Linked DNA regions of Homo sapiens: all the other regions are linked to region 2. The links come from fine-mapping of genetic effects on gene expression. A gene starts in region 2. Each other region holds a variant in brackets. All regions are shown on one strand. Distances are between the middles of the regions.

Region 1 (5,151 bases), 34 kb after region 2:
TGTTTTGTTTTTTGAGATGGAGTCTCACTCCTGTCACGCAGGCTGGAGTGCAACAGCGTGATCTCGGCTCACTGCAACCTCCATCTCTGGGTTCAAGTGATTCTCCTTCCTCACCTCCTGAGTAGCTGGGATTACAGGCATGCACCACCATGCCCGGATAATTTTTGTATTTTTAGTAGAGATGGGATTTCGCCATGTTGGCCAGGCTGGTCTTGAACTCCTGACCTCAGGAGATCCACCCACCTCAGCCTCCCAAAGTGCTAGGATTACAGGGGTGAGCCACCACGCCCAGCCAAGGGCTCTTTTTTCCTTAATGTAAATGTGCACAAAGACCATATTATTTTGGCAAGTAGAGGTGCCATAAAACCTACAGACTGCTCAAAAGGGGGTCATTCTCCTTGTTTTCTCATCATTCTTAGATTGTTTCCCATTTTTTTTCTTTCTTTTTTTTTTTTTTTAAGGGAGGAACTGAGCTATGGTCCATGGTTTTTGTGTGGTGGATCAACATGTGCTGCTTGTGGGCAGGACTCCACAGTGTGTCACCACTGAGTAGTTTCAACCCTTTTATATGTCTCAGTTTCTCCCTCCAGAGGTCTGTGACCTCAGAGAGGGCTCAAAACACCAGATGATTAGCCCTTACATGTGTTACCTAGATGAGCCATTTATAAAATTAATTTTTGTTGGGGATTCCCTTGCAGGGCTGCTGCACGTCATGGGGTGGTCAACCTCCCAGACACTCCCATGGGGCCCCCGGTCACCCAGGGAAGCCTTTCAGCTGGAAGGAGCAAAATGCCCCTTCTCTTCAGGGCTAAGAAAACTCAGTCTCTCATTAACATATCAAAACAACAGTTTAGTTCCTCATGCAAATGCACACAGACAAACTCAATTAAGATTAAAAATTTGGGACAAAAAGCAATAGAGAAGACCTTTCAAATGCATCTCCAAACTAGAATTAGGATCCTTAAACAACAACTTTAAATGGGAACAAACAACAAAGCCCCAACAACATGATCACTGAACCCTCTAATGGTAAGGAGAAATTCATGTTACAGGAAAGGGGGCCAGATCCAGGCTCCAAGACAGGGTTCTTGGATCTCGTGCAGGAAAGAATTCAGGGTTAGTCCATAGAGTAACATAAAAGCAAGTTTATTAAGAAAATAAAGGAGTAGGCTGGGCGCAGTGGCTGACACCTGTAATCCCAGCACTCTGGAGGCCAAGGTGGGCAGATCACCTGAGGTCAAGAGTTTGAGACCAGCCTGGCCAATATGGTGAAACCCCGTCTCTACTAAAAATACAAAAATTAGCCAGGTGTAGTGGCACGTGCCTGTAGTCTCAGCTGCTCGGGAGGTTGAGGCAGGAGAATCGCTTGAACCAGGGAGGCAGAAATTGCATGGACCTGAGATCACACCGCTGCATTCTAGCCCAGGTGACAGAGTGAGACTCCATCTCAAAAAAAAAAAGGAAAAAAAAAAAAGAAAGGAGTAGAAGAATGCCTACTCCACAGACAGAGCAGCCCTGAGGGCTGCTGGTTGCCCATTTTTATGGTTATTTCTTCATTATGTGCTAAACAAGGGGTGGATTATTCATGCCTCTCCTTTTTAGATCATATAGGGTAACTTCCTTACATTGCCATGGCATTTACAAACTGTCATGGCACTGATGTGAGTGTAGCAGTGAGGACGATCAGAGGTCACTTTTGTTACCATCTTGGTTTTGGTGGGATTTGACAAGCTTCTTTACTGCAAACTATTTTATCAGCAAGGCCTTTATGATCTGTCTTGTGCTGACCTCCTATCTCATCTTGTGACTTAGAATGCCCAACCATCTGGAAATCCAGCCCAATTGGTCTCAGCCTCATTTTACCCAGCCTCTACTCAAGATGGAGTTGCTCTGGTTCAAATGCCTCTGACATGTAGACCAGTTGGTTGTTAATCTTAACTTTAGCCAAGCTAAACCCTAATTCAGTTACTTATCTAGGAATGGGTTTCAGGCAGAAGACTGCTCTCTACCATCCTAGAAGCAGGAA[AAAC/A]AACAACAACAACAACACACACACACACACACACACACACACACACTCATCTTCTCTGTTGGAAGTGAGCTTAAACTCCATAAAGGAGTTACCTGCCTTCCCTCATGGGCCCAAGATATTTTCCTTTCACATTCCTATAAAAGATTATATAACTTCTGCTTGAACATTTTCAATGACAGAGAACCCACAAATCAAAACTTCTATTTCTTTTTCTTTTCTTTTTCTTTTTTTTTTTTTTTTTGAGACAGAGTCTCCCTCTGTCACCCAGGCTGAAGTGTTTTAGCATGATCTAGGCTCATTGTAACCTCCACCTCCCAGGTTCAAGTGATCCTCCTGCCTCAGCCTCCCAAGTAGCTGGGATTACAGGTACATGCCACCACGCCCGGCTAATTCTTTTTTTTTTTTCAGTAGAGACAGGGTTTCACTGTGTTGGCCAAGCTGGTCTTGAACTCCTGACCTCAAGTGATCCACCCATCTGAGCCTCCCAAAGTGCTAGGACTACAGGCATGAGCCACCACACCTGGCCCAAAACTCCCATTTCTTAATAAGTTTTTCATATATTAAGATCTGCTTTGCTGTAGCTTCTTACCCCCTCCTACCCCTACCCCCAACCCCGTTTACTCTGGTTCTGACCTCTGGAACTACACAAAATAAGGACAGCGCTTTGCTTCATGACAGTTCTTTAGTATTTTATAACTTGGATCACTGTCCACAGTGCATCTCATCTTTGCCCGGCTGAAAATATTCCTGGTCCTATCGTGTGTCCACATAATATTAATACATAATTTCAAGAGCTTCTGCTCTCCTGGTTACACTCTGGATAAACATTCTTCTCTTCATAATATATCTCACGTAAAAAAATGGTCCAAGTCTTAGAAACAGACCAAAGTGATTCCTGGTGTCCTTTCAGTGGAGGGCAGGACATTGTTAGCAGACCCTCTGGGATTCTCTAATTCCACAGGACGTGCACTTTCAATTGCCTGTGATTGACTAGGCTATTTTACAACTCTGTTGGAATAGGGTTTAAGTTATAGAAAATGGATAACGATGCAAATGTTTCCTGCCCATAGCTATGCAAATGATACCCGTGCATGACAATGCAAATGAATTTTGTCTGGCAGAGAATATAAATCTCTGCAAATCAAAATCTCATTTTAAATGGTTTTTAATTAATGAGTTAAATAAAATATTTGACACATTTATTTTATTTTTGTGATTTTACATTTCTGAAAATTATGCTTTTAACCCTCAGGAAACAGGTTCCCAGAACGCAGTGGACCCTTCCTGCTTGCCTGGTGACTCTACGTGTGGTGGGAACTCGAGAGCTTTTTAATAACCTCATTAGCACTATTGACACTTTGAGTACAGAGTGAAACAAAACAATTATTTTCTTCACAGATGATACTGTAGCCAAGTTTCTCATATCTTATGCCTTTATTTTGTAACACGAATGCTAGATTTTTAAATATTTATTTCTTTTAAGTTTAATGTTGAGAATGTGAGCTCATTACTCCAGCCCAAGGAAACAATTGTCCTGTCATTTATGTCTTTATCAAAGAACAAACCAGAATCCAAAACCGCTCAGAACTCAGAGGACTTTGGTAAGCAGAACCTGCTTTCACGGCCGGAATAGGGGAGAGAGAAGGGAGTACAAGGGTTTCTCTGCAGAAGCACAATCCAGCTGAGGCTGATGCAGGTTTGTGGGAAACTTACACAACTGGGGCTGGGAGGCTGTAAGCGGTCCTCTCCAGGAAGAATGGTAGTAACCACAGGAGCATCTCAAACTGGGCCTACTCTATTGATAATAGAATGTCTAAGTACCTTGTAGATATAACAGAGCCAAGACTGCAAGTCATATGGCCCAGGCATGTACAATAGGAAAGATTTGACCTCTGACATCCAAAACCAACAATTCCTCCCCACGGAACCAGGAAGACCAGGACACAACCAGAACCTGAACATCAGAACCATTTCAAAAGCGAGGGGGTCTGACGGCCAGGAAGATCCAGGGCTAAAATCAGCCTCAACGTACCTTACCAAAAATAGTCACATTTGAAGCTCTCCAATCAGACCTTACCACACCAAAATCCTTTCTGCCTTCCAATCCCTTGAAACTTGCCGCAGACTCAAATTTGGGAGACAGATTTCAGCCATGCCTTCTGTGTCAGCCTCTCAATGAATTGTTTTTTATCTCAAAAGCTGGTGCCGTAGTATGGCTTCTAATTACATCAAGCAGTGAGACCATTTGCTCAATAACAGAATAATGCAAAATTGTCCATTTTTCTTTATACAATGTTACACATACTTCACTAAAATTACTCTCCTCAAAATAATATAAAATTAAGAATATAAAATTGCTAGAGCCTCTCCAAGGGCCTTGCAAGGTACCCTGTGAAAGTGATGGGCCCTGAGCATAAGCTTCTTTGGCTTCCCCATTAAGTCTGTCTGAAGGTCTGCTAAGGTGTGTCAGTGCAGAGAACGTCCTCAGTACCTAGGAGTGCGACTTCCTGCCTATCTCACAATTTTCGTGTCATTCATTTCTGTGACTCCCACCTCTTTACAAAAGATATGTAGAAGCTCCATGCACCTACTTTTTGGGGGTGACCACTAATTATTACTACTATTATTATTATTCAGCCCCATGACTTCCTATATTATTCTTAGAGATCACTTGGGAAACTGATTATCTTGATTTTAACAGAATGAAGTTTTCAAAGCTGTTGACCTTTATAAAAATCTAGTCTCCATGCACCTATTTTTTTGGAATCATTTAAAAATTATTCCGAGCTTACTCTGCTTTCCTTTTTAGAGGCCTCATAGATACAGACAAAGAATCTTTGCTTGGCCAAACTCTACTCAGCCTTCTGAATATTCTTCTAGGCCCATCTGTGCACTTCCATGTAAAATCCAGTTTTCGCAAGACCCCTGCTAAGTCAGTTTAGCCTGAATTCACCTTACCCCAGAGATTCCCTCTTGGTAATTTTTCCATTTGCTGACCCCTACCCTGCTCCTTGGCTCTATGGTCCCACTTGCCCATGCTGTACTCAGAGTTGAGCCCAGTCTCTCTCCTTCACTGCAATACCCCATCGCTGTGGTCCCCATACCTATTGCGGTGGACCTGA
Region 2 (5,151 bases):
CTTTAAAAAACAGTAAGTAATGTCCCATCAAAGCTAAACCCACACCCCCAAAAAAATTCAAGTCGAAATTTCCATCTTAAACTGACTCTGACTAAGTACATATAAAGCCCAGTAACTCTTTTGGGCAATGCTCACATGCTGACTAAACTCAGAACAGCGAAGGAGACTACATGAATCTATGACTATCTCATGGATTCTAAATTAAAGCTTAGAAACATTTACAATGAATAAAATAAATCCATAGCTGGAAATCAACAGCTGCCTTGATTAATAACAAACCTAAAGATTTTATAGTTTGAGGTATCAACTTTATCAACTTGGAATTAATTTTCGAGCACAGTCTCTATTTATCAAGTACGTCCTAATATTTCAACATACTTTAATTTTTCCCAAAAGAAAAAGACAGTTATTATTCACTATGAAATGCATGCTATTAATGCTACATTTTTTAAAAATCTGATTTCCTCTTTCCTACGATAAAGCCAAAAACTGATTTCCTTGGTAATTACCTAACAACTTTTGCACAGAACATTTCAGATCCATCTCAAATAGGTTTGCAAGTGGTAGGAGAAGTTTCATGGGATGGAACTTAAATAAATAAATAAATAAATAAATAAAAGGAAGAGGTTTGTTTACCATTTAAATCTCTGGCTGAGTTTAGAGGCTGTTTCTTATTGTTATTAGTTAAAATTATTTTTGGCAAACTAATACAGTAGAGAAAATTAACCTGAGAAGTCTACCTTGAATGCCACGTTATGTCAATAAATTCTAATCTTTGGTTTCACAAAGTAGCAAAACAGAGAATTATGATTATCTAAGTGATTTAAGCTAATCAACAATTTTGGACAAAACGCAGATTACTGCACCTGCATGTACCTGTCCTCATATTTCACAAGGTATAAGGTGATCAAACTAAGGTTTTTCCAGTAACATCATAAGAAGCAGAACAACCGACTGATAATCTTCATAATTTCACTCTTTTGTCCTTTCAAAATTGTTTCAGAAGGTAATTCCCAAAAATGCTTTATATTATAATACAAAGGTATCCTGAAAATAGAGATACGTCAGTTGTACTTTTTAAATTGTGCAAGTTAAATCACAGTTCAATAACTCTACGCTGACTTCTAGTTTAAAAGACCACACAAACATATTTTCTAAAATACCTGATTTTGACTTCAGGATAACCTGAATGGTATGTCCATCATTGGTGACTTCACAGTCTCGGCACACCACATAATTTGGGGAGAGGCGGACATCCAACAGCGAGGGGTCATACCTAGCCTCTCTTGAGTTTAGGTTAATAGGAGACTGGTATTCCCCATTAGCATCAGGAAACACCAGACCCCACTCAACACCTAAGAACAAAATGAAATAAATTAAAAACAGGTTAAAAAATAAATTACAGTAAAATTTAACATGTAAAAACTAAACACTTAGAACCCTTGATATCATGAAGAGAGTAATGATACCATCACTATACAGATGAAATATGGTAATTCTATTTGTTTTTGCATTCATTATTTGAATGATCTGTTATTATCAAATACCATACACAAAATCCCGGACTAGCAAAATATTCTATTTGTATTTGTCAACAAAGACATAATAATTTATGATTCTAGGAAATTTGGGTCATTTTTAAGTGATTAGGAAAAAAGAATACCAGAACAATTTCTTCTGCTTATTAGTTCAATTACGTTCAGTACCTGGGAAACAGCTGTAACTTTCAACATACTTAGTGACAGTCAGAACCCTAACTCTCATGCTAGTAAATAGACGCCCCTTATCAGAAATGCAAGTGTAGTATTTTAAAGTGTGCATATGTATATATCTGTGTACATACATATTCCCATAGTCTTTCCAAATTTTTTATAATTAAAATTATATATTCTATATTGGTTTCAACATATGTAGTAAACATCAGCACTACTGGTTGGCTCTAATAGGAGCCCTAGGTCTTTAGGAATAAATCTAGGAAACTCGAGTTTTTCAGAAAGTCAACCGCTTCTCGCCAAACCCAATGATTCAGTCTGAAATTTAGGACATGTTTTAGAAAGACTTGAGCATTGCTAGCAGGCTTCACGAAAAGACCAGAGGCAGAAACACTTTCTCCCCAAAGTCTCCAAGCCAAAAACGAATTCTTCACGCTAACACTGTCTTCCTCAGGTGTTTAGTAAAATGTACCGCTGCTCTTCTTGACTACTCAGAAGACATAAAAGGTACAGCCACGGCTTGGAGGCTAGCCCGCCCTCCGGACCGCAGCAGGTGCGAACGCCAGCCCTGCGGAAGGCTCCCGGGTGAGAGCGCAGGCGGCGGAAGAGCGCAGGCGGCGAGCACGCCTCCCTGGAGCGCCTCCCGCCCGAAACGCACCAGGGGAGTGGGAAAGTGGCAGAGACCCCCGTGGGAAAGAGGGGGCGTGGGGGTGCTCGGAGCGCGCAGCGGCAGCAGGACTCGAGTCCCGCGCTCGGCGAGACACTGACGCCGCCGCGGGACCCCGGACACCCCGACTCGCGGCCACTTACCTTCCTCGTAGCCCCACTCCACACCCTCCTCTTCTTCCTCCTCATCCTCTTCCTTCTCGGGGAAGGCGACGGTATCTTCGATGAAGCTCAGGTCCGCCATGGGAAGGCCGCGGGGCCCCTCGGCGCTCTCGGCAGCAGTGCCTGCGCCTTCGCTGGGCGCGGGGCTGGAGCCGGAGCGGAGCGCGCGTGGGGGAGTGTGAGCACGCGTGAGCGGCAGTGTGAGTGCGAGAGCGCCTCCGGGTGTGAACCGCAGTGTGAGTGCAAGCAGGCGTGCGTTCGGACCGAGTGTTCCAGAGACCCGCGTGGGAAGCGCGTCCGGAGGCCCCAGCAGAGCGAGGGAGCGGCTGTGGCCTGGGGAGCGAGCGCCTGGCGAATTTTATACCCGACCGGGGCGTGTCTGGTACGCGAGGATCCGCCCCCTTCTCTCTCTGGCCGTTGGGGCCAGGGGAGCCGACAGTTAGAATGCGCCTCGGGGCGACTAGTCCCAAGTCACGGAAACCTCGGCGCATCCCCGCCCGCCCTTCCCCCGGGGTCGCCCCCGCCGCCTCCTGGCGCTTCCTCGCTGCGGCGACTCCTGCTTGGCCGCCCGAGCCTTCCTTCCAGAAGCCCGCAAGTCTCCCAAGGTCACTCGGGACCCCTGTGTGCCTGGCCTAGCCCAGAGGCTGCTCACCTATTCATTTTCATCCGTACTCCAGGAAATACCAAAAAGAAGGGGTCCTGGAGGAGAGAGATGGGCTGCCGTGGGTAGGAGAAAGGAGAGGGCTAGGAGACCCCGTAACACAATAAAAAGAGACTCTCCAGCGGAATCTTCTTAGTATCTTCTGAGTATTTACTTTTTAAATCGTCCGTTCAGCGCAGTGGAAACGAGTTTGGAAATTTTTCCAAGAAAGTTCTATTAATTCCTAAAAACGTTTAAGAAAAGAAAATGGTTGTTATCTAGAGAAGTAGCTATGATTTAGGGTTGTGTTTTTTTTTTTTTTTTTTCCAGAAAAGGGTATTGTTTCAAAGCAGGGCTAGCAGAAGGCAGTAGACAGAGGGTGTTCGCTGTCAGAGTCTGGGGCGCTGCTGCAGGCTCACCTGGCTGTGTACACAGCTCCCATTCACCTAGTGAAATCGTGTAAATAATGAAGTGCACACATTGCATAACAAACAGGAACTCTTCTGATCCAAAGAGGTGGCATTGTTACCCTTAAACGTGCTTCTCAGTCTAGTGTTAACGACTTCAGCCCTCTGTTCCTGTGCCTTTTAAAAGCCCTGGTCAGTAACCCCTAAGTAGGTTAACTCCACATTTTTAGAAGATATATGTGCACAATAAACTCGAGTTAGGACCTTAAGTACAATTTGTTTTTTATATGCTCTGGTCATTCATGAAGATATCTATTTGCACTTTGAATAACCTGTTCCTAAATCACACCAGCCTTATGAATGCATAATTCCTCAAATAAGGATGGAAATGATCCGTTTGGGAATGTTTAGTTTCAGTGCTCATATCCTTTACTGCCTGCTAAGCACCTCCACTTTTTAAAAAGACACTTCATAGCTTTTAAAAAAAAAAAATTACAAACTGCTCCAGAAAGTACACTGAGATGGAAAGAAGTGGGGGGAACCCTCAACTCGCTCAATTCTGCCACTTTCTGGAAGGTTTAACCAAATATATGGAAAACTACTGGCCAACATTAGCTTGGAGGATAACCGGTGGATTTTAAGCATTCATATAATTTCTCTTTTCCTTAACTGTGCAGAGGACTGAAACAGTTTGAGAAACTAAATTCATTTTTCACTCACTGCATTCTGGGTGTTCTTTAGTGGACGGTCGTTTGCATCTTTGCAAGCCTGGGACTGGCAGAAGCAGAAGCCTACCCCAAAGCCAGAGCTATTAAAAATAATAAGCACTACTGAAAATATTAACTACTTTTCACTGAAGGTCTTCTAAAAGGAACATTTATTTTTCCTTTCTTGAAAACTTTTTTGTAATCTTCTATTTGTTTTAAGTTTCTTTTTAGAAGTATGTTCACACGTTAATTAAATGCCACAGCTAAGGAAGCCCATACAAAGGCTATGAAGGAATTGGATAATAAAAGCACTGCCACTCTGAGCTCATCAGCAATGGCCTTTCTCCTCTGTCCCCCAAATGTGCCTAAGTATGACATTGTAGCCATTGTGTGACCACCAACTGTGTTTAAAATATCAGGTGAATCATAGAGATGTTTATCAAACCAGAGGATGGTACAATCACCATGGTAAAAAACTGAATTTTCCATGAATAAATACTGTGCCATATTTACAAAAGATAGGCTGAAAGATTGAATTATTAGTATTTACTTTTACAGTAAAAAGACAATTTTGCATATAGCCAGCAATGTATTACTATTCAAATATGCAGTTGACTACTAGCATTGGCCTATATTTGCTCCTTCTGAATTGTTCATGATTATTTGTAGAATGTAACTCCTGTATGCAAGCCTAGGGTTCCCTGTCCAGCCACATATGAGCCAATCCTCTAAGCACCCAAATATTCAATTAACAGCCTTAATTGCTTTGAGACTGTGGGGTTCAGATTTTTGCTAATTAACAGCACCTTAAGACCTTCTCTTCTCAGGTCCCTGCACTATATTACCACCAAAGATGG
Region 3 (5,151 bases), 57 kb after region 2:
TGGAAATGTGAGTAAATTAAACTTCTTTCCTTTATAAATTACCTAATCTTGGGTATGTCCTTATTAGCAGTGTGAGAATGGACTAATATAGTAAATTAGTCCGTGGGGTTGTACCTAGCAAAGCCAAGGCGGAGCTGCCCAAGGCCATGGGAGCCTACCTTTTGCATCAGCACGCCCTAGATATGAGACATGGAGTCAAAGGAGATCATTTTGGAACTTTAAGGTTTAATAACTACCCTATTGGATTTCGGACTTGCAAGGAGCCTGTAGCCCCACTGTTTTGGCCAATTTCTCTTATTTAGAATGGGTATATTTACCCAATACCTATACCTCCATTGTATCTGGAAACTAACTAACTTGCTTTTGATTTTACAGCCTTATAAGTAGAAGGAATTTGCCTTGTGTTAGATGAGACTTTGGACTTGGACTTTTGGCTTAGCACTGGAATGAGTTGACCTTGGGGGATGGTTGGAAGGGCATGATGGTATTTTGAATTGTGAGGACGTGAGATTTGGGAGGGACCAGGGGGAGAATTATATTGTTTGGCTATGTCCCCACCCAAATCTCATCTTGAATTATAGTTCCCATAATCCCCACATGTTGCACGAGGGACCCAATGCACATAATTGAATGATGGGGGTGGTTTCCTCCATCCTGTTCTCATGGTAGCGAGTTAGTTCTCATGGGATCTGATGGTTTTATAAGGGGCCTTTCCCCACCCATCACTCTGCACTTCTCCTTGCTGCCACCATGTGAGGAAAGACATGTTTGATTCCCCTTCCAGCATGATTGTAAGTTTCCTGAGGCCTTCTCAGCCCTGCGGAACTGTGAGTCAATTAAACCTCTTTCCTTTATAAATTATCCAGTCTCTGGTATGTCTTCATTAGCAGCGTGAGAATGGACTAATACAATGTGCCCATCATAAATCTTAAAAATGTTGGCCAAAGATAAAATGTAGACAATAACACTAGGTTTGAAGGTGCTGTGCTCAGAATTACTGGGGATAAGAACAAAGGTTGACAATTCCTTTGACCCCATATGAGGACTGACTTTTCCTCTGCCCCCACCACCGTACTGCCCACACTTCCAGCTGCTCTAGGCACACACACCCTGTCGACCAGGATGAGTAGACAACACACAGCTGAGAAGTCCCAATGCCCAAGACTAGGCTGTTTTGTCAAGCCATCTCCAATTCCTATGCACCAGTGGTGGTGGCCAGGAAATGAGAACTTTCAAACTCAAAGTGGAAGAGGCCGGGCGCGGTGGCTCACGCCTGTAATCCCAGCACTTTGGGAGGCCAAGGCGGGCGGATCACGAGGTCAGGAGATCAAGACCATCCTGGCTAACACGGTGAAACCCCGTCTCTACTAAAAATACAAAAAATTAGCTGGGCGCGGTGGCGGGCACCTGTAGTCCCAGCTACTCAGGAGGCTGAGGCAGGAGAATGGCGTAAACCCGGGCGGCGGAGCTTGCGGTGAGCCAAGATCGCGCTGCTGCACTCCAGCCTGGGCGACAGAGCAAGACTCCATCTCAAAAAAAAAAAAAAAAAAAAAAAAAAACTCAAAGTGGAAGAAATGTTACTCACAATTTGAATGGCTGAAATGAAAATATCAACAACAGGAGAGCACGGCAAGGAGCAAAGGGACAATTGTAAGCAGCAGAGGATTGAGGTCCTTAAGTTGAGCTGAAATGGGGTCCACTTAGATTCAGAAAGCCTTCAGGCATGTGACCCAGGTCTCAGCTTCCTCATCTACGAAGTGGAGATGATGGTTGATTCTCATTATTCATGGTAGTTACACTCTAAAGTGACTGCAAACACTGAATTTGTGAATACTGAGCCAGTGCTTTTATGGGAAATATGGGGTTAGATCCCTGCCAGCCTCTGGTCACATTTCCATCAACTGATCAATACATTTTTGTAATGTGTGTTTCTGTTTAAACACAGCATA[T/C]TGAATCCCTAACAGAGACATTAAACCCTTACTCAGAAGTAAATAGTGCTATTTCCTCAATAAAATATTGCTGATTAGCTAACATTGAACAGCCACCAGCACTACAACTCCTGCCTGAAGGAAGCTTATCTAACACACCCGTTTTCTCCATAAGGTACCTCACAGCCTCTTGTGTTTAAAACACCAGAAGGCACTGCAGCACTACCCTTCGGGGCCATCTCAAACAGCAAAATCACCAGTATTGAAGTTGGGGTTGCAAATCAATTTTTGCAAATACGTAAATTTGCAAATACCGAAGTGATGAATAGTGAAGATTGACTGTAATAATAATAATACAAGCTGTGGAGATTAATGAAATAATCCATGTCAAACATTTAACAGCATGTGGTACATATATACCAAATATGTACTGAACAAGTAACTGTTTTTGCCAAATATTTGAAGCCACTATTAAGGTGTTAAGTATATAACTATGAATATTACCATATACTGTAAATGGGTACTCTAGAAGGAAGACTACAAAAACAGCCTAATGTTAAAATTACCTGATAAACAGGTACAGTTTCTTTGCCACAACTTTTTAAAAATGACTTTAAAAAAACACTTAAAATGAAGCTACCTATGTGTTTTTCATAGCAAGTTAGTTGAATTAAAATTAAGACCCTCGGGAGATCTGGAAGTAGGTGGGAATGAGGAGCAAATTAATTGTTTTGCAATAAAAACTGCTCCCCAATCCTCCAGTCCCTAACAGAGACAATTAACCCTTACTCAGAAGTAAATAGTGCTACTTCCTCAATATTAACAGGATTCAGTAAAGGATGTTTCAGTGTATTTTTTTTTTTTTTACTTTAACAACCACCTTGTTTGGCATTTATTTTTACTTTGTTGTAATAGTAAACACAAGGGATCCCCTTTATTTAGCATAAAATTTCCTTGCCAGAAAGTAAATATTTGATGTTTATATAAGCAGCTATAAAAACAATTTCCTGAGAGATTTCTCCACAAAAATATTTACCTGCTTGAGCCGATGGATTGAGATGATTTGGAAACCAAACTTCCTTTCCAGTGTGGCTAGGTAGGCATTTCCTTCTAACTTATCCTTCACAACTCACTACAACATTTGAAACCTCTTGTCTTCAGGATTTTGTGTTCAAAACTTCACTGAACTTTTTTTGTTTGTTTAACTTATCTAAAATATTAGTAATAGTCTATCTATAGTATCTATAACATTTCTTTTCATTGTCTCAACTCCAAAACCCACTCCTCCCGCATTTCTGGTTTCTGTGATGGGATCACCATTCTTGTAGTTGCCCAGGCTTGTACCGTTGGGTTCACCTTTTACTTCTTCCTCTTCATTGCTGCATGCCAAACTCATTCAACTTCTTTATCCTGAGGCTACATTACAGCATGCATTCTGTCCATCCCCATCTCTCCATTCCCATTGCCCTTGTCCTAGTTGAAGTTCTCAATTCTTATTGCCAGAGCCAAGGCAATAACTTTGTAATCACCCTTCCATCATCTTCCCCAAACCATCATACCTGTGGCTACCAAATTCATTTTTATAAAGTATTATTTTATTATCACCATGGCATGACACAGCAAGAAGGCCCTCCCCAGATGCTAGCCTCTCAATCTTGGACTTCCCAGCCTCCAGAACTGTGAGCCAATAAATTTATGTTTATTAGAAATTCCTAGTCTCAAATATTCTGTTATAGCAACACAAAATAGACTAAGACAAACTCTCAAATGTGGAGCTCCCTATCTAAATCCTTTCCACATCTCGTTCTTTTCCATGGAACATATTGTCCACCAGGCAACAGTTGGAGTTTCAGTTCTTCAGAATGCACAGGGTCACCTTGCCTTGAAGCACTTCAGATCTCCATATTGTAGTCATATAATGGTTCTCTCTTGGAATGAAGATGATTTTTTTTTGCCACATTGTATACTTACTCATGAGCTCTTTCATCAGAAATGCTGCAGTTTTGTTACTGATGTTTTTAGAGTCAAAACATAATCTTCTATTTTATCTAAAATTTCCCTCTTCTATGGGTAAAAGAAATGTCTTTTTAAAAAGTAAGGGGTATTGTTCTCCAGTCCCGATATAGAAAATGATATCCTAAAGGAAAAAAACGCTGAAAGGTGGTTACTAAGTAAAGGCCTTCAGTTTTTCTTTCCCAGAACACGCTTGAGGTGTATTTGACATCTGTCTAACTCAAATTTCATTCCTTTTGAATGTCTCAGTTCCCATATTCCTTCCACAATGTAGACAAAAATCTCCATTTACCCTGTTGAAGAATCTCATACTAAAATCCTAAATCACGACAAAGCAAGGTTATGAGCATGGCTCAGAGCATGCACTGTGACCTCACAAGGAAAGGTGACTATGGGGGCCTGGATTAGGAAAGATGTCAGGGAGGAGGTGGCATTTGAGTTAGGCCTGAAACAAGCATTAGCAGTGGAGCACCCAGAGTCGCAGTGAAGGAAAATGTAAACAGAAAGGATGTAGCAGGAAAGGAACAAAGTCAAGATTTCTGGATGCAACGACAGAGAGCTACAAGAGTTTGTTTTGGTCTGGCCCATGCTTCATGAAAGAAAATTGTGAGACATTTGTTATAAAGGAGGATTGTAGACTGGCCCATGAGGAATCTCACTGCCAAGCAAAGGAGAGGCAGCACTTTATTCTGTGGGCAATGGGGAGCCAATGAAGGACAAAACAGCCAGCATAAAAAAGAACTTAACAGATCTGACAGAGCTGAATAACACAATGTAAGAATTTCACAATGCAATCACAAGTATTAACAGCAGAACAAACCAAGCTGAGGAAAGAATCTCAGAACTTCAAGACTGGCTCTCTGAAATAAGACAGTCAGACACCGAAGAAGTATGGGATTATGTAAAGAGGACAAATATCAGAATCACTGGCATGCCTGAAAGGGAGGGGGAGGAAGCAAACAACTTGGAAAACATATTTCAGGATATTGTCCATGAAAACTTCCCCAACCTTGATAGAGAGGCCAACAGTCAAATTCAGGAAATGCAGAGAATGCTTGCAAGATTCTACACAAGAAGATCATCCCCAAACACATAATTGTCAGATTTTCCAAGGTCAAAATGAAAGAATGTTAAAGGCAGCTAAAGAGAAAGGGCAGGTCACCTACAAAGGGAACCCCATCAAGCTAACAGTGAACCTCTCAGCTGAAAC
Region 4 (5,151 bases), 41 kb before region 2:
GAGGGCAGGATACAGAGGCGGCAACCCTGTGCACTTCTCCAGCTCCATTATTCTGAGAGGCAATGTGCTCTCATAAAAGACCTCTGCTAGGAATCTCGTCTTAGATTCTTGTTTCAGTCCTACAACTCTTTAGCTCTGTGAACTTCACTAGTCACTAACTTCTTTCAGCATGTCTCTCTGTAACACAGGAGACTGTATCTTAAAAGCTTGGATTATTCACGCTTTTCTCTGTCTTCCCATAGTACTCTTTTTCCTATATTCTTATCACGTTTTACTGTTATTAGCATTATATATAGCCAGCAAAGGCAGGGAAGCAGGATGATGGATTCTGACAAAGAAAAGCAGCCAACTGGATTATAGTTTAGACCAAGTATGTAAATGCCACTTACCATTTCTAAGGAGAGCAAGGGTCGGCCGCATTAGCACTGCATCTGTTTAGAAGTAGACGGGTCACTGCATAGGGTCACTTACTCCTCCAGGGTCCACTGGACTAAAGATGGCTCCAGGCAGGACCCTGCCCCACAGGCCTTCAAGAGCCTGGACCTGCTCTACCTGGTAAACACACTGCACAGCAGGTGGCTGAGGGGCTGCCTCTTGCAGCCTGAACCCAAGACCTACTATGGCTACCAACAACAACAGCAGAATCCCTCCTGCTGAAAGAATCTGCCTCCAGGCTCCCTTCAGCCATTCTCCCTCCAAAGGCAAAAGGTTTGGCCTCCTCCTACACTTGGGCACCTCAGGGTAGAAGAAAGTGGTTTTCCGTAACAATTAAAGCTGAGTCCTTCCTCACTCCTTATAACTCTTCCCCCCAGCCCACCAACAGGAGGCAAGTGTTACAAAGACATAAAACAGCCAAGATCCATTATTACTCTGGCAGCATGATGACCATTATGTCTTCTGTTAAAAAATCGGACCACAGGAAAACAACCATGATGCATCCTTTTACAGCTTCAGGGAAAATCTTGGACCGAGCTTTTGCTACAGGACTCACAACTTCATATTCCCGCAACTGATTATGCTGCCTTACCATTAGCACCTGTGAAACGTTCAAAACGTTCATCTTAATGCACTTAACTCACAGAATAGATAAATTTGTCCAAAGTTAAGAAATTGCGACATGCCACAGCCTTATCATCATTTGTCACTGAGAAAAATAAGTTTGAAGACTTCATGGCAGCTTAACAGAAAGCTATCTTCACGACAAATGAGGTTTATTACTAACATAAATAATACGACGGCAGCAAAGTACCAAAGAATGAATCATGAGGAACGGAAAAAGTAGTAAACACTGAAAAGGCAATTATGACTCACAAATTTCCTTTTCCCCAGCCCTGGGCACTCATACAAATTCTGTGACATCTCCTAACTGCAAATGCAGGGACCTTTCCTTTCAGATGTCTTCTTGACACCTCAAGATGAACATTTCTACAACTGACATCAACCCTCTTCAAAGGAGCTTCCCACTCACACACTCTTCATAGAACTCCCCCTCCTGCCCCGCTTGCCAGGCTTGAGACCTGGGACCCCCGTGCCTTTATCTCCAGAGCTCATCTAGACCTCTCCTGGGCCCTGGCATTTACATTATGAAGCCCGACTAATCTCTTTTTAACACAACTTTCACCACATTTCCTCTGTTGAAAATCTCTGATTTCCTTTATTTCCTATCCATATCAGACTTACATTTCTCAAACCACATCCTTCCCCACCCTAACTCTCCCCACATGCTCAAACCAAGCATGACCCTGACTCCTCACAACAGCCTCCCCATTCTGCTTATGCCCACTCACCTGGAATGCCTTTCCCCAATCTGCCCTGACACCCAGACAAATCCTACCTGTCCTCCTAGGCACTGATGGGCATTTGACAGAAAGATGGAGGCTGGAGATGCCAGAAATAAAGGGTGCAGGGAGGAGGGGAGACAGTGGGAAGGGAGAAAGAGACAGAGAACTTCAACCAACAGACAGGAAGAAAAAGGAAGAGAAAGAGGGGAGATAACTGGGATTTCTACCAAAATCATTTTATCAAAAGGGAGATAAATTCAGGGGTGTTTTGAGGGTTTGGTTTTTGCAACAGATGGAGTCTTGCTGTCATCCAGGCTGCAGTGCAGTGACAAAATCACAGCTCACCGCAGCCTTGAACTCCTGGGCTCAGGTGATCCTCTCACCTCAGCCTCCAGGGGAGCTGGAATTACAGGTGTGAGCCACAA[T/A]TGAATTCAGTTTTAGATAGGAGTGTAAACCCACATCAGAACAATCAAACTAGTGCCCCATTAGTGAGAGGTGCAGAACTGCTGCTGCCTTGAGAAAGGGCTAAAGGTACAGGGAGCAGATACCCCTAGAGCAGGGGTGTTCAATCTTTTGGCTTCCCTGGGCCACACTGGAAGAAGAAGAACTGTCTTGGGCCACACAGAAAATATACTAACACTAACAACAGCTGATGAGAAAAAAACAATTGCAAGAAAATCTCATAATGTTTTAAGAAAATTTACAAATTTGTGTTGGGCCATATTCAAAGCCATCCTGGGCTGCATGTGGCCCACAGGCCATGGGTTGGACAAGCTTGCCCTAGAGAAATGTGACCTTGTAGAGTTGGTTCACTCATGGATTGATACGGTTTGGCTGTGTCCCCACCCAAATCTCATCTTGAATTGTAGCTCCCATAATTCTCACTTGTTGTGGGAGGGATCCTGTAGAAGATAATCAAATCTTGGGAGCAGTTCCCCCCATACTGTCCTCGTGGTAGTGAATAAATCTCACGAGATCTGATGATTTCAAAAGGGGTTTCTTCTTTCACTTGGCTCTCACTCTGTCTCTTGCCTGCCGCCATGTAAGACGTGCCTTTCACCTTCCACTATGATTGTGAGGCCTCCTCAGCCACGTGGAACTGTGAGTCCAGTAAACCTCTTTTTCTTTATAAATTACCCAGTGTTGGCTATGTCTTTATCAGCAGCATGAAAACAGACTAATACATGGATCAAGTCTTGAGAGAAACTGACGGGGGACCAAAGACTGAGCTTTGGAAAATGGTGAGATAACGAAAGAGGGACTATCAAATATGCAAGAGGGAACTCAGAAAATTCCAAAGTGCCATTAAAAGAGAACAGACTTTCTAGAAGACAGTGTGGGCATCAATACTGTCAAGGAGATACTAGCAGCAAAGCTATGACAGCTGCAAAGAAACAAGGAAAAATGAGGACAGAAAGAGACTTTGGACCTATTGTTTTTTAGATTATTGAGATGGCAGTTTCAAGACAGTGAAAGGCACACAGGGAGAACACAGAGACATCAGGATAAAACAAGTGGAGCAAGGCCAATCAGCCTATAAGGTAGGCAGGATTATCAGAAAACAGACATTAGAAGTCAGCTGAAATCACTGGTTGAGAGTGAGCAAAGCTCACCTTTGACTTTTTAATATTCTTATCTATTTTCTTAATGGTTAAAAGTAAAACTGGAGAGAAATAACAGGCTGCTGTTAAGTTTTGATGAATAATAAATATTCAATGCAGCCCATGAACTCAGATGTAACTGGACCTGTAAACCACTTTCTACCCAATGTATAGTCATTAAGAACTTTCCTCTGAGCCAGGACACTATAGAGTATAGCTTCACAGAGGGAAAAAATCATCAAGAACAGATCTTTATTTCTGTGTCCTGATTTTGCTTAATTGCCTTCCTCAGCCCCCAAAAAATCCAACTATAGAAAACTGTAGCAGGTCCCAATAGATTCTGAGTTCCAGAAGCCAAGTATCTCACCCACCCAGGCTCTGCCACACTCAAAACAGCCCTTCTCAGAGCACTCAGAGGGGGCTATAAAATTTTGAAAAAGAAAAAAAAAGATTATATCTCAGCTGTTCTTATGATACTGGAAATTGAAAGAAAGAAGATAGTAAGCACTGGAAAAAGAAGGAAAAAAAGGGGGAAAAGGAAACAGAAAGTAGAACATTTAAGTCACAAAATGGGTCATTAAATAACTGAGAAATAGTTAACAGAGAAAGCACCATCTCTTTCCAGATCCACTCATAATTATATGAAGCAGCCCATTCATCAGCAGATAAATCAAGATTTAGTGTGTATTATTCTCAGATGCTGCTACGCTTTAAGTCATCACTGTCAATATATTATGCTGCTATTATTCAGAGAAGGACGTTCAAGGTGTAGACAGATATAACAGTGACAAAATACTGTAAAGCATGGAATGGAACATAAATTATTCGAAATTCTATCTCTAGCTATCACCTACTTGTTATGTCTGCCAAAACCTAACCAAGTCTTGTATACAGATAGGTAGAAGAGAAATAGGGGAATGTGACAGAGGGCTTCAGAGCAACTTCCCCCATGAAGACATTAATATCAAAAGGTATTTATAGTGTTCTTAGTAAAAGGCACTAGTGCTATGTAATTTATAAAAAGAAGATCTTATTTCAAAGCAGAATGGCTGCCTCTTTAAATGCTGACTGATTTCCTGCCTTCTTAGGAACAGGGCTTTATAACACCATTGGACTCTTCTCCCAAAAATGAAGCTTCCTTTATGAAATTCACTATAAAAGATTGGGAAAAGCTTGGTGCAGTCATAGATCAAAGAAAAGAAAAACTACATCATTTTTATGTTTTATATTTAATGTAAAATCAGAAGCAATTAAAACTCATTCTTCAACACTGGTTTCTTGATTTCCAGGAAATATCCTACATTTTATTTTCTAAAAAAAAAAAACCTGAATTGTAGGCTATAGCTGCAATTAAATTGCTATAACTTCCCTACTTCATTTATTATTTTGTAAAATAAAGAAAGCAAAGAGATTGTCAACGGGTCTTGTTATAGAATGTAAGTCATTTATAGATTGGATCTGTTCATTCTATACAGTGAATCAGTGACTAATGGCTGCAATCCTCTCCCTGCTCATCCCTGAATGAGAGCCACGATGATGAAAGAGTTCTGAAATAATGGCAGCACTCATCTCAACATTTATTGAGCACCGACAGTATCTAGGGTTTTAGTGTTCACTGCTTCTGGCACTGGAAATGCAAAGACTCAAATCTTGTTATAAAAGAATCCAGGATGTAAATAAACAAAAATAAGAAATTTATAGCCCAATAGAAGAAAAGGATGAGTGAAAAGGATTAGTGCACAATCGAAATGTTAAAGGATGCTGTGGGT

Which allele goes with the higher level. Alleles are on the strand shown, and positions count from the first base shown. SD is a standard deviation of normalised expression in the study named. Not every link is listed here.
With allele A in place of AAAC in region 1, the expression in synovium of the gene that starts at base 2,875 in region 2 is higher (large effect, 0.90 SD a copy in Steinberg 2020).

What was found. PIP is the estimated chance that this variant, and not a neighbour inherited with it, causes the effect.
Region 1: its variant is the best candidate, but not a certain one, in a credible set for the expression of CA8 in synovium (Steinberg 2020, PIP 0.59).
Region 3: its variant is the best candidate, but not a certain one, in a credible set for the expression of CA8 in whole blood (TOPMed, PIP 0.73).
Region 4: its variant is the best candidate, but not a certain one, in a credible set for the expression of CA8 in whole blood (TOPMed, PIP 0.73).

Annotation. Positions count from the first base shown.
Region 1 is chr8:60,312,031-60,317,181 of GRCh38, forward strand. All of the region lies in intron 5 of LOC105375864 (a long non-coding RNA gene), which reads right to left. Among named protein-coding and RNA genes, the nearest start is that of CA8, 33 kb to the left of the region's middle. The variant AAAC/A (reference allele first, on the strand shown) is at 2,027.
Region 2 is chr8:60,278,526-60,283,676 of GRCh38, forward strand. It overlaps CA8 (carbonic anhydrase 8), which reads right to left and starts at 2,875. Exons shown (of 9, transcript NM_004056.6): 1 at 2,523-2,875; 2 at 1,164-1,355. The coding sequence starts at 2,622. RefSeq lists an enhancer at 2,351-2,857 and a silencer at 2,850-3,058.
Region 3 is chr8:60,335,616-60,340,766 of GRCh38, forward strand. LOC105375864 (a long non-coding RNA gene) reads right to left here and starts at 3,563. Exons shown (of 7, transcript XR_001745925.1): 1 at 2,965-3,563; 2 at 1,586-1,750. The variant T/C (reference allele first, on the strand shown) is at 1,950.
Region 4 is chr8:60,237,054-60,242,204 of GRCh38, forward strand. All of the region lies in intron 3 of CA8 (carbonic anhydrase 8), which reads right to left. Among named protein-coding and RNA genes, the nearest start is that of CA8, 42 kb to the right of the region's middle. The variant T/A (reference allele first, on the strand shown) is at 2,207.